Regions from separate parts of the Homo sapiens genome. Here region 1 is linked to region 2. The links come from fine-mapping of genetic effects on gene expression. Tissue or cell type: testis. Region 2 holds a variant in brackets; the other region holds the start of a gene. All regions are shown on one strand. Distances are between the middles of the regions.

Region 1 (4,214 bases), 30 kb before region 2:
CCAGGTGGGCAGATCACTTGAGTCAGAAGTTCGAAACCAGCCTGGTCAACGTAGTGAAACCCCATCTCTACTAAAAATACAAAAAATTTAGCCAGGCGTGGTGGCGCACGCCTATAATACCAGCTACTCGGGAGGCTGAGGCAGGAGAATTGCTTGAACCCGGGAGGCAGATGTTGCAGTGAGCCGAGATCACGCCACTGCACTCCAGCCTGGGTGACAGAGTGATACTACACCCCCCAAAAATAAAATAAAATAAATAAATACAACTTTTTGAGTTGTTAGCAGGTTTTTCCCAAATAGGGCTTTGAAGAAGGTGAATATAGACCCTGCCCGATGCCGGCTGGCTAGGAAGAAAGGAGTGAGGGAGGCTGCTGGTGTGGGAGGCTTGGGAGGGAGGCTTGGCATAAGTGTGATAATTGGGGCTGGAGATTTGGCTGCATGGAGCAGGGCTGGAGAACTGAAAGGGCTCCTATAGATTATTTTCCCCCATATCCTGCCCCAATTTGCAGTTGAAGAATCCTAAGCTGACAAAGGGGAAGGCATTTACTCCAGGTTACACTGCAGCTTAGAGCCCAATAACCTGGTTTGGTGATTCCAAGTTAGAATCATGGTCTTTTGGCAGGGTCTCGCTCTGTTGCCCAGGCTGGAGTGCAGTGACATAATCATGGCTCACTGTATCCTTGACCTTCTTTCTGGGCTCAAGCAATCCTCCCACCTCGGCCTCCCAAAGTGCTAAGATTACAGGAATGAGCCACCATACCTGGCCCTGAATCTTGGGTCTTGGCCTTAGTAATTAAAACCAATCACCACCATCCGTTGCGGACTTACAACCTACAGTGTTCTAAACATTTTATATGTTTGATCTCATTTAATCCTCACATCAATTTAGGGACAAAGAGCCCCCCACCCCCCGTTTTTTTTTTTACAGCTGAGGAAACACTTCAAAGTGGTAAGACATTTGCCCGAGGTCCTGAAGGAAGAGAGTAAAGCCATGTCTGCTGTTTTCTAGAGGCTGCTACTGTCCCCTTTACTGCCCTGAAGATTCAGCCTGCGGAAGACAGGGGGTTGCCCCAGTGGAATTCCCCAGCCTTGCCTAGCAGAGCCCATTCCTTCCGCCCCCAGATGAAGCAGGGAGAGGAAGCTGAGTCAAAGAAGGCTGTCAGGGAGGGAAAAAGAGGACAGAGCCTGGAGTGTGGGGAGGGGTTTGGGGAGGATATCTGACCTGGGAGGGGGTGTTGCAAAAGGCCAAGGATGGGCCAGGGGGATCATTAGTTTCAGAAAGAAGTCTCAGGGAGTCTTCCATCACTTTCCCTTGGCTGACCACTGGAGGCTTTCAGACCAAGGGATGGGGGATCCCTCCAGCTTCATCCCCCTCCCTCCCTTTCATACAGTTCCCACAAGCTCTGCAGTTTGCAAAACCCTACCCCTCCCCTGAGGGCCTGCGGTTTCCTGCGGGTCTGGGGTCTTGCCTGACTTGGCAGTGGAGACTGCGGGCAGTGGAGAGAGGAGGAGGTGGTGTAAGCCCTTTCTCATGCTGGTGCTGCCACACACACACACACACACACACACACACACACACACACACACACACCCTGACCCCTGAGTCAGCACTTGCCTGTCAAGGAGGGGTGGGGTCACAGGAGCGCCTCCTTAAAGCCCCCACAACAGCAGCTGCAGTCAGACACCTCTGCCCTCACCATGAGCCTCTGGCAGCCCCTGGTCCTGGTGCTCCTGGTGCTGGGCTGCTGCTTTGCTGCCCCCAGACAGCGCCAGTCCACCCTTGTGCTCTTCCCTGGAGACCTGAGAACCAATCTCACCGACAGGCAGCTGGCAGAGGTGGGCAAACACCTAGTCTAGAGTTGGGGAGGGCTGTCCGTGAGGGTGTTGAGTGTCCCAGAGAGGATGCAGGGCCTCAGAGGAGATGCTTTAGGGGTGTGTTGGTGGTGATGGGCGTATCTGAAGAACAGAGGTGTCCAGGGTTAGGCAGTGGGGGGTCTTGTGGAGGCTTTGAGCAGTGATGGCCAGAAATGGGCAATGGGGCTTTCCTAGGTGGGAAATGGGAAATGGTTTGGGGTGGGGGAGGCATTGGAGGGTTCTGGGGTAAGCATAGGCTGGGAGTGAACAGGGGCAAACCTTATGCAGCTGTGGGGTAGAAATGGGCTAGAGGCATCCAGGGGTGAGAAGGAGCTGAGGATGTCTAAGGAGGGGAGATCCCTGGGTGGTCAGAAAGCACTGGTGTCTGGAAAGCATTTAATGCTTTATTAAATGTTAGTCCCTGCTGGGCATGACGGCTCACACTTGTAATCCCAGCACTTTGGGAGGCTGAGGTGGTAGGATCGCTGAAGCTCAGGAGTTTGAGCCCAGCCTAGGCAACATAGTAAGATCCTGTCTCTACAAAAAAATTAAAGAAATAGCCAGGCACAGTGATGTGCACCTGTAGTTCCAGCTATGCAGAAGGCTGAGATGGGAGGATCGCTTGAGTCCAGGAGGTCCAGGCTGCAGTGGGCTGATACCGTCTCTCCGAAAAAGAAAAAGAAAAAAGACTCCCTCCATGAGTGTCTGGAGGGAGTCCTTTGGCCCCAGCTGGGCAGAGAAAGGGGTCAGAGATCTGGCATGTGTGTGTCCCTTCATCCACAGGAATACCTGTACCGCTATGGTTACACTCGGGTGGCAGAGATGCGTGGAGAGTCGAAATCTCTGGGGCCTGCGCTGCTGCTTCTCCAGAAGCAACTGTCCCTGCCCGAGACCGGTGAGCTGGATAGCGCCACGCTGAAGGCCATGCGAACCCCACGGTGCGGGGTCCCAGACCTGGGCAGATTCCAAACCTTTGAGGGCGACCTCAAGTGGCACCACCACAACATCACCTATTGGTGAGCCGGGGCCGTGGGGGCAGCGGGGTGGGGCGGGGAGGCCAGGTCTGGCTCTTGGGCCAGCGGTGAACATGTCCTGTCTTGGACGCGTCCCTGGGTTTCACTATTTAATGTGTGGCCCCTGGGGAGTGTCCCCACCTCTGAGCCTCTGTTTCTCCTTCAGGGAAATGGCTCTTGCAATCCAAGTCCTCCTGCCAGGGCCATTGTGAGGGTCTAAGTAGACAAAAAAAAAAAAAAAAAAAACAGTCTGGAAGCAATTTATAGATGAGAGCGTGGACGGCAGAGAGCATTGTGTATGTTGAAGTCTCTGCGATATGGGGTGTCCCTGCTGCCCCGCTCCAGCCTTTCACTTCTGACCTCCTTCCTCTGGCTCTTACGCTACAGGATCCAAAACTACTCGGAAGACTTGCCGCGGGCGGTGATTGACGACGCCTTTGCCCGCGCCTTCGCACTGTGGAGCGCGGTGACGCCGCTCACCTTCACTCGCGTGTACAGCCGGGACGCAGACATCGTCATCCAGTTTGGTGTCGCGGGTGAGAACGTGAGGAGGGAAAATCCAAGAGACCTGGGCGGGGTCAGGGAAGGGAGGACCACGGAGAGCGTGGAGGCAGCAGTGGCCCCGGCTTCCTCTTGCCTGCCCGCGCTGCCCTGGCTTATACGGCCCCTCCTGCCAGACAGTGCACAGGGCCAGGGCGCCAGGCTGGGAGAGCTTCGCGCAGGCGGGATTTCAGCCCGCACTTATTTCGGAGCCCTTGCCTTGGGCAGCGCACAATCTGCGCAGCAGTACTCGGCTAACCCTCTTCCTCTCGACCTGTTTCTTCAGAGCACGGAGACGGGTATCCCTTCGACGGGAAGGACGGGCTCCTGGCACACGCCTTTCCTCCTGGCCCCGGCATTCAGGGAGACGCCCATTTCGACGATGACGAGTTGTGGTCCCTGGGCAAGGGCGTCGGTGAGATTCTGAGTCCTCCTGGCCCCTGATTCCCTTCATTCTCTCCCACTCATCACCCGCCGCCCTAACTCCGGTCCCCCCTCCTCCTGCAGTGGTTCCAACTCGGTTTGGAAACGCAGATGGCGCGGCCTGCCACTTCCCCTTCATCTTCGAGGGCCGCTCCTACTCTGCCTGCACCACCGACGGTCGCTCCGACGGCTTGCCCTGGTGCAGTACCACGGCCAACTACGACACCGACGACCGGTTTGGCTTCTGCCCCAGCGAGAGTGAGTGAGGGGGCTCGCCGAGGGCTGGGGGCGCCCACCACCCTTGATGGTCCTGGGTTCTAATTCCAGCTCTGCCACTAGTGCTGTGTGGCCTGCAATTCACCCTCCCGCACTCTGGGCCCAATT
Region 2 (8,453 bases):
TCTCTTCCTCTGCCCTTCGCCACCCAGCTCACTCCACTTGCTCCCCCAGCCTCCTAGCACTGACACCCTCCCTCCATAGGAGGAGATGGACACCAGCCCTATGGTGTCCTCCTTGCTCAGTGGCCTGGCCAACTACACCAACCTGCCCCAGGGAAGTAGGGAGCATGAAGAGGCAGAAAACAATGAGGGTGGAAAAAAGAAGCCGGTGCAGGTGAGGACCTCGGGGGATGAGAAATGGAAGAAAAGGGACGGATGGGGGGTGGGGGAGGATGGGGGAGGAAAATGGATTTGAATGGAGGGAGGGAAAGGGGATACAAATCAGAAAGAAGAGGGATGAAGGGTTGAGAATAGAGAGAAGAGGAAGGTGGGGGCAGAGAAACATGGAGGAGGAGCACACCTGGGGTGTTCGTAATGATGAGGACTGCAGAGACTGATGCTGGCCTCCCTGGCAGGCCCCACGCATGGGCACCTTCATGGGCGTGTACCTGCCGTGCCTGCAGAACATCTTTGGCGTCATCCTCTTCCTGCGGCTCACCTGGGTGGTGGGCATTGCAGGCATCATGGAGTCCTTCTGCATGGTGTTCATCTGCTGCTCCTGTGTGAGTGACACCCCTCCCCTCACCACCCCCTGACAGCTGGGGCTTGGCAGAGGCCTGGGGGTGGGAGGTGGGAGGATGGAAGCATGAGACCTGAGCTTTTTATAGGAACCACTGCTTATGATCTTTGAGAGTAAATTAGGCCTGACTGGTCCTTCCTGCATCTCACAGGCTTGTCCTTGATGGCTGTTAACCAGGTTTCACCTGGATCTCTCTGTGTGTAATTACACAAGTGATGCAGCTCATTGATGGAAATGATAAGGGTAGGGAAGAAAATAAAATTCACCTATAATCTTACAATAGTTAACATTTTGGCAGGTCCAGACTCACAAAAATGAGATTACATGTCACAAACAGCATTGTAACCAAATTCTTCCCATTCTCTCTAAAAAAATCAAATATTCGCCAAACACCTACTTCTTGATATATTTACATGTCCTCGTACATAACCTTGAGACAGCTCTGCATGTGAGGTACGCAGTGTCGGAGCTGTTACTCCTATTCTATAGATGGAGAAACTGAGGCTTGGAGAAGTGAAGTGAGTTGTCTCAGGTCAGGCAGCTGGTCTGAGACCAGGCTGGGATTTCCAGAGCTCTCTGATGCTGTGGCTTGCTTGGGCTCCTTCCGTTCGCATGGTGAATAAGGTTTTCTTGAGAAGAAGGACTTGGCAGGAGTAGAAGTTGGAACAGGTCCAGGGAGCAGCTCAGCAGAAGAGAACCTGTGGGTTTGGCTGGTGTTTATGGGGTATAAGGCTTGGCCCCCACCCAGGCCACTGCGGCCCCTACCCCAGCCACCGCTCTGATGATCTCTTTCCTCACAGACGATGCTCACGGCCATCTCCATGAGTGCAATTGCAACGAATGGTGTTGTGCCTGGTAGGTGACTGGGGCTTTGTGGGGAGGGAGGATGGCTGGGTGGAAGGAGGGATAGTGCCCTGGGCTTTGGGGGACATCAAGGCCCAAGAGAGATAATATTCTAGACTAGGGGGCTGGGCTGTATCTGTTTTCAGCCCTATTGGGGGCAGAGGAGGAGGCAGCTCTCGGTGTTGAATAGGGCAGCCCTCCCCCAACTCATCCTGAGACCCTCCTCTCCACCATCCAATTTTCTGAGCCATGACCTCCTTAAAGGGGTAATTAGCAACATGGTAATTAGTGCTGCAAAATCCATGCAGAGTGGTTGCTTGGGTCTCTCACCAGTCCCCTTTCTAGGGCTGCAGCCCATAAGCCTGTGAGGCCTGGAGCAACCCCCTTCTGCCTCTGTCACTGAACACCCCTCACCCCTTACGGCAGCCCAGTGCCCCCGACCCTCTCGCTGATACCAGATTCTCCCTGCAGCTGGTGGCTCCTACTACATGATTTCCAGGTCTCTGGGCCCAGAGTTTGGGGGTGCCGTGGGCCTCTGCTTCTACCTGGGCACTACCTTTGCAGGAGCCATGTACATCCTGGGCACCATCGAAATCCTGCTGGTAAGAGAGGCTGAGGAGGAGGTGTGGAACCCCAGGTTGTCAGTCAGTTAATCAGTGCTCCCTGGACACCTCCTATAGGCCAGGCCATTCAGTGAGGCCAAAAATGTGGTTCAGTAAGGCCAAAGTCAGATGTGGTTCTGTTTCTAAAGAGTTCACAGTCTAGTTGGGGAGACAAGATACAATAATTATGTAACATACACAGCTGTCGTTTATCAGGCCCCCACTGAGCTCTCAGCATCCTTCCAAGTGCTTTCCAGCCATTCTCTTGTATCCTTACGAGGTTTAAGTATTATGATGCCCATTTTACAAATGAGAAGCTCAGAGAGGTGAGATAACTTCCTCAAGGTCACTCAGCTCTCAGATAGGCGGCAGAGGTGGGTTGATGAGTTAAAATATGGTAGAAATAAAAACAGTAATGTTATGCAGCAGCTACCATTGTGTGATTGCCTCCCAAGGGGCATGGACTGTGCTAGGTACTCTATGATGTTAATGGTAGATGGCTGGTGGCTATTGGATTGCAAAAGAGAAGAACCAGGGGAGGGATCCGTATAAAGACATCTGTTGGGAATAGTGACTGATGGAGAGAAACCAGGTTGCTGGGCAGTGCTTGAAGTCAGGACTGGTGACTTAGGTCTCCATCCTTCATCCCCTTCCTGTAGGGCATGGGTGCTGAAGAGGTGTCCCTGGTGGATAGGAAGTAGAGCTGACATGTCCCAAGCCCCTACTCTGTGCAGGCCCCAAGGCTTGAAGTATATCATTTTATTTTATCGTCATGACTCTCTCATGAGTTAAAGGTGGCCATTTTATTTTATTTTATTTTTTATTTCTTTTGAGACAGAGTCTCACTCTGTTGCCCAGGCTGGAGGGCAGTGGTGCAGTCACTGACAGCCTCGACTTCCCAGGTTCAAATGATCCCCCCCACCAGTTCAGCCTCCCAAGTAGCTGGTAAGCACCACCATGCCCAGCTAATTTTTGTATTTTTTTGTAGATAGGGGTCTCACTATGTTGCTCAGGCTGGTCTCAAACTCCTGAGTTTAAAATGATCCTCCCACCTCAGCCTCCCAAAGTGTTGGGATGACAGGCGTGAGCCACTGCACCTGGCTAAAAGGTGGCCATTTTACAGATGAGGAAAGCAAGGCTCAGAGTTTAAGGAACGAATGGAAGGAATATGAACCTTGGTCTTTCTGACTTCCAGAGCCTTACACAAGTGATGCAGCTTCATTGATGAAAATGATAAGGGTAGAGAAGAAAATAAAATTCACCTATAATCTTACAATAGTTAACATATGGTAGGTCCAGACTCACAAAAAATGAGATTACATGTCACAAACAGCATTGTAACTGAATTCTTCCCATTCTCTCTAAAAAATCAAATATTCACCAAACGCCTACTTCTTGATACATTTACGTGTCCTCTATACCACACTGCCTTGGAAACCTAGAACTAGAAGGTGTCACAGCAATTAGTGTCACGGCAGGATGGAAGAGGGTAGGACAGGGAGGATGGATGGGGCATGAAAGGCCTGAGGAGGCAAATGATGAGGGAGAATAGACCTCCATGACTTCTAAAAATTAAAATATTTGAAAATTGTTGTAAATGCAATTCTGCCCATTGCAGAAAATTGGGGGAATATCCAAGTCATGAAAAAATGTAAAGAAGGAAATAAGTCACCCAAAGAAAATAACCATTAACATTTTGGTGTATTGCCTTCTAGTTTTTGTTTTTCTATGTGGTATTGTATTCTGTCTATGTAAAATATAACCCTATACCTAAGCAACTCATATTCTCTTTGTATATATTATTTGCAGTGAAAATAACTCTTGGAAGAATGTAAACGTTAATATTTAGCATGGGAATTTTAGAAAATACAGATGTGCATAAAGAATAGATTATCCACATTTTTTACGATTCAGGGAAAACTACTGACAACATTTTGATGTACTTATGAAAACACATACAGACGTATACTAATATACGTATATATCTTCACATACACATTTATAAAAATGAGATAATGAGACATATTCTTTTTCAAAAACCTGATTGTGTTCACCTAATGTACCATGGATAGCTTTTAAAGTCAGTCCATATAAATCTATGTCATCTGGCCGGGCACAGTGGCTCATGCCTGTAATCCCAGAACTTTGGGAGGCCGAGGCAGTTGGATCACCTGAGGTCAGGAGTT[C/T]GAGACCAGCCTGACTGATACGGTGAAACCCCGTCTCTACTAAAAATACAAAAATTAGCCAGGGGTGGTGGTGGGCACCTCTAATCCCAGCTACTCGGGAGGCTGAGGCAGGAGAATCACTTGAACCCAGGAGGTGGAGGTTGCAGTGAGCCAAGATCGTGCCACTGCACTCCAGCCTGGGCAACAAGAACAAAACTTTATTTCAAAAAAAAAACAAAAAAACCACCACCACAATAAAAAACCAACAACAACAATAAAAAACCAACTACATCATCTTTTTTAATAGCTCCATAGTCTGTGGGGATATCATGATTTATTCACCCAACCTCGAGTGATGAACATTTATTTCCACCTTTCTATTAGAAATTATTAAAATGATAAATAATTATTAAGAATTATAATTAACAAAAATAACAGAAGTAATTGCTTCCAGCATCCTTGCAATGTCATTTTTTAAAAAATGTATTTTTATTTGTTTTTGAGATGGGGTCACATTATGTTGCCTAGGCTGGTATTGAAATCCTGGCTTCAAGTGATCCTCCCACCTTGGCCTCTCAAAACACTGGGATCACAGGTGTGAGCCACCATGCCTGGCCTTATAATGTCATTTTTAAATGGCTGCATCATAGTCCTTGCAGGACAGGCCATGCCTTCTTTAGCGATTCTCCTATTACTGGATGTCTTTTCCAGTCTGGTACCACTGTGACTGTGCTGTGATGAGCATCTTTTTTCCTAAAGCGCTGCATGTAGTGCAAAGGGCTGCTGACTTAGGTATCTGTTCTTCCTGCCCCTTTCCCACAGGCTTACCTCTTCCCAGCCATGGCCATCTTCAAGGCAGAAGATGCCAGTGGGGAGGCAGCAGCCATGCTGAACAACATGCGTGTTTACGGCACCTGTGTGCTCACCTGCATGGCCACTGTGGTGTTTGTGGGTGTCAAGTATGTCAACAAGTTTGCCCTTGTCTTCCTGGGTTGTGTCATCCTCTCCATCCTGGCCATCTATGCTGGGGTCATCAAGTCTGCCTTCGACCCACCCAACTTCCCGTGAGTGCTGCTGCTCTGAGCCCAAGGAATCGTCCTCCTACCTCCCTGGCCCTGTTTCAGAGTCTCTGCCAAACTCCCCCTCCCTGCCCCTCAGAATCTCAGAGTGGTGTGGGTTGGGAGTAGCTTCCCTTGGGAGGGAAAATCTCTCTTAGTTTGGGGGCAATCTCTTCAGAGTGAGGTAACTTTTCTGGAGGAGGGAACAATTTACCTTGTAAGAGTCAACTTCTTGCTGGTAGGGTGGACTTAGGAAGAATTAAGTGGGAATGAGTTCCAAAGCAATGAATGCTGTCTGTGGTAGGGAAACCTTTCCTGGGTGGGGACAACCTCCTGGAATGGGACAATCTCCTAGTGTTGGACAACTCCTCCAGGATGGGAAAAGACACAGAAGTCTACAGGGTCCAGGGACTCAGATCCAAGTCCACTCCATCCACTGCTCAGAGGTGGAGGGCGGCCCCCGAGACCGCTGTCCACGGTGCTGAAACACAGCATTGCACTAATGCGGTGCTTCTCCACCTTGGCTGCTTATTAGAATCACTTGGGGAGCTTAAGAAAAAAAAAAAAAAGCCAATGGCCAGGCTTCATTTAAATTAAACGAGGAACTCTGGATATGGGGACCTGGCGTCCGTGTGTTTAAAAGGTCTCCCGGTGGCTGTATTGTGCAGCGAGGGCAAGGTTATGTGGCTCCCCACCTTCCTCCCTTGTTTCTCTCCCTAGGATCTGCCTCCTGGGTAACCGCACGCTGTCTCGCCATGGCTTTGATGTCTGTGCCAAGCTGGCTTGGGAAGGAAATGAGACGGTGACCACACGGCTATGGGGCCTTTTCTGCTCCTCTCGCTTCCTCAACGCCACCTGTGATGAATACTTCACCCGAAACAATGTCACAGAGATCCAGGGCATCCCTGGTGCTGCCAGTGGCCTCATCAAAGGTCTGCGGAGGGACAAGGGCTGGCATCCAGGGAACGCTGCAGGGATTGTAGGTTAAGCGGTCAGGATTAAGGGGCCCTCCTTGGGATTCAGCTAAATTCAATCAGCTTTAATTGAGCACCTACTCTGAGTTACATTCTGTCCTTGGCATCAGGGAGGAGTAAGGTGAAAAGGAGACAAGTATCTCACCGCTAGTAGGAAAAGAAGTCATCAACGTAACAGGTGGTCACTGAGCACCTACAGAGTGCCCAGCATTGTGCTGAGTGCTAGGAACACAAAATAAATAAGCCACAGTTCCTGGCCTCAAGGAGACTAATGGCAGAAATAGATGTAATAGCAAATACATTATGCCATATGTAGATGTGCATTCAATGCACAGAGAATGCCCGGGGGGGGAGAGTTCATGTGTATAAGATGGCAATAGGCTTCCTGGACTCAACTGAGGAGGGTTTTGAAGGACAAATGAAAGATCTTCAATTCTATGAGAGGAGTAAGGAAATTGCAACCAGAAGAACAGCTTGCCTAAAAGCAGGCAGAGGCAGAAGAGTTTATTGTGTCTTTCCAATCACAAGTAATTTGGTATGACTGGGGCATAAAGAGCAAAATAAGGTGGAGAAAGAAGCGATGTAGGAGAGGCTGGCATGAGCCAGATCATGGCAGGCCTTGGAAGCCATTTTGGAGAGTTGGGACCACATTCTGAAGGCAATGAGGAGCCACCAAGGGGTTTTGGGAAAGGGAGGGACGTGGTCAGATCTCCATTTTTTGAAGGTTCATTCTGGCTGCTAATGTGGATGGGTTAAAGGGGTGAGAGGAGAGAGGCAGGGGGCCCAGGAAGGGGCTGAGGCTATGAGTCCAGGAGAGAGAGATGGTGGTTTTCTGAGTGAGAGTGATGGAATGATGTCTGTGGGAATTACTGCAGTGCTTCTCAACCAGGGCTGTTTTGCCACCCAGTAAACATTTGGCTGTGTCTGCAGACGTTTTTGGTTGTCAAAACTGGAGGGGTGTACCTGGCATCTAGTAGGTAGAGGCCACGATGCTGCTAAACATCCTACAATGCTATAGGACAGTCCTCCACAGCAAAGAATTATCTGGCCGGGAGTGTCACTAGTGCCACAGTGGAGAGACCTTGGAATGGAGAGAAGGGGCATATTTAAGAAATATTAAGGAGGGGTTAAAGGACAGAAGTTGGAGGTGGTATTGAAGTTGGGGAAGGGGAGAGGGAGCAGTGTAGGGCAGGGTGTCAGAATTGATGATGGTGCCATTTACTGAAATATGGGATGCAGGAAAGGAGCTGGTTTGGGGTGGGTGGAGGGTGAGATCAATTTGGGACACATCGACTCAATCTGAGATGGGTCTTTATTTGCTCATTTACTCCACTAGATTGGACTGTTTGATGGTAGTGACTGGGTCTGATTAGTCTGTGAAAGGTCTGTACATAGCCTGGCCCAAATCAGGAGCTTAGGAAATGTCAGTGGAAATGAAATAGAGATAAGGCCGGGGAGAGTGAGATGGGGTTGATCTTGACCCTGACTTTTTGCCCCCTCCCACCTCCTGGTCCCAGAGCTCTGGTCCCCTTATGGCTGGCCTCCCCCTGAGCATTCTGTCTCCCCACAGAGAACCTCTGGAGCTCCTACCTGACCAAGGGCGTGATTGTGGAGAGGAGTGGGATGACCTCGGTGGGCCTGGCCGATGGCACTCCTATCGACATGGACCACCCTTATGTCTTCAGTGATATGACCTCCTACTTCACCCTGCTGGTTGGCATCTACTTCCCCTCAGTCACAGGTGAAGGGGAGCTCAGAGAGGGAAGACTCTGCCTGTGAGTGGATGGGGAAGAGAGAGTCGATGATGATGTTGGGAATTTCTTAGTCCAAAAACCCCATCATGAAAGCAACCGTAACATTTCACTTCCCATTGGAGAGATGAGGGAATTAAGGCCAGGAGAAGCTAAGTAACATGTCCAAGGTCTCACACAAGCCAGTATGTTAGGACTAGATCCCAGACTCACTGACCCTGAGGGTGGTGCCCTTTTTTCTCATCTGTCTGGTCTCCTGTGGCCCTGGCTTGAGTCCTAGCTGCACTTCTGTTTTGCAGGGATCATGGCTGGTTCTAACCGCTCTGGGGACCTGAGGGATGCCCAGAAGTCAATCCCCACTGGCACCATCCTGGCCATCGCCACCACCTCTGCTGTCTGTATCCTGCACAGCTGTGCTGGGACCACCCTCGGGGGAGGGCAAGA

The links. PIP is the estimated chance that this variant, and not a neighbour inherited with it, causes the effect.
Region 1: it holds the start of MMP9, and the variant in region 2 is fine-mapped to the expression of MMP9 in testis (GTEx, PIP 0.97).

What each region holds. Positions count from the first base shown.
Region 1 is chr20:46,007,229-46,011,442 of GRCh38, forward strand. MMP9 (matrix metallopeptidase 9) reads left to right here and starts at 1,680. Exons shown (of 13, transcript NM_004994.3): 1 at 1,680-1,836; 2 at 2,638-2,870; 3 at 3,255-3,403; 4 at 3,694-3,822; 5 at 3,915-4,088. The coding sequence starts at 1,699.
Region 2 is chr20:46,035,325-46,043,777 of GRCh38, forward strand. It overlaps SLC12A5 (solute carrier family 12 member 5), which reads left to right. Exons shown (of 26, transcript NM_020708.5): 3 at 80-211; 4 at 453-599; 5 at 1,417-1,471; 6 at 1,931-2,061; 7 at 5,049-5,290; 8 at 6,005-6,216; 9 at 7,829-7,999; 10 at 8,309-8,407. Among named protein-coding and RNA genes, the nearest start is that of SLC12A5, 10 kb to the left of the region's middle. RefSeq lists silencers at 5,586-5,880, 5,663-5,863. The variant C/T (reference allele first, on the strand shown) is at 4,248.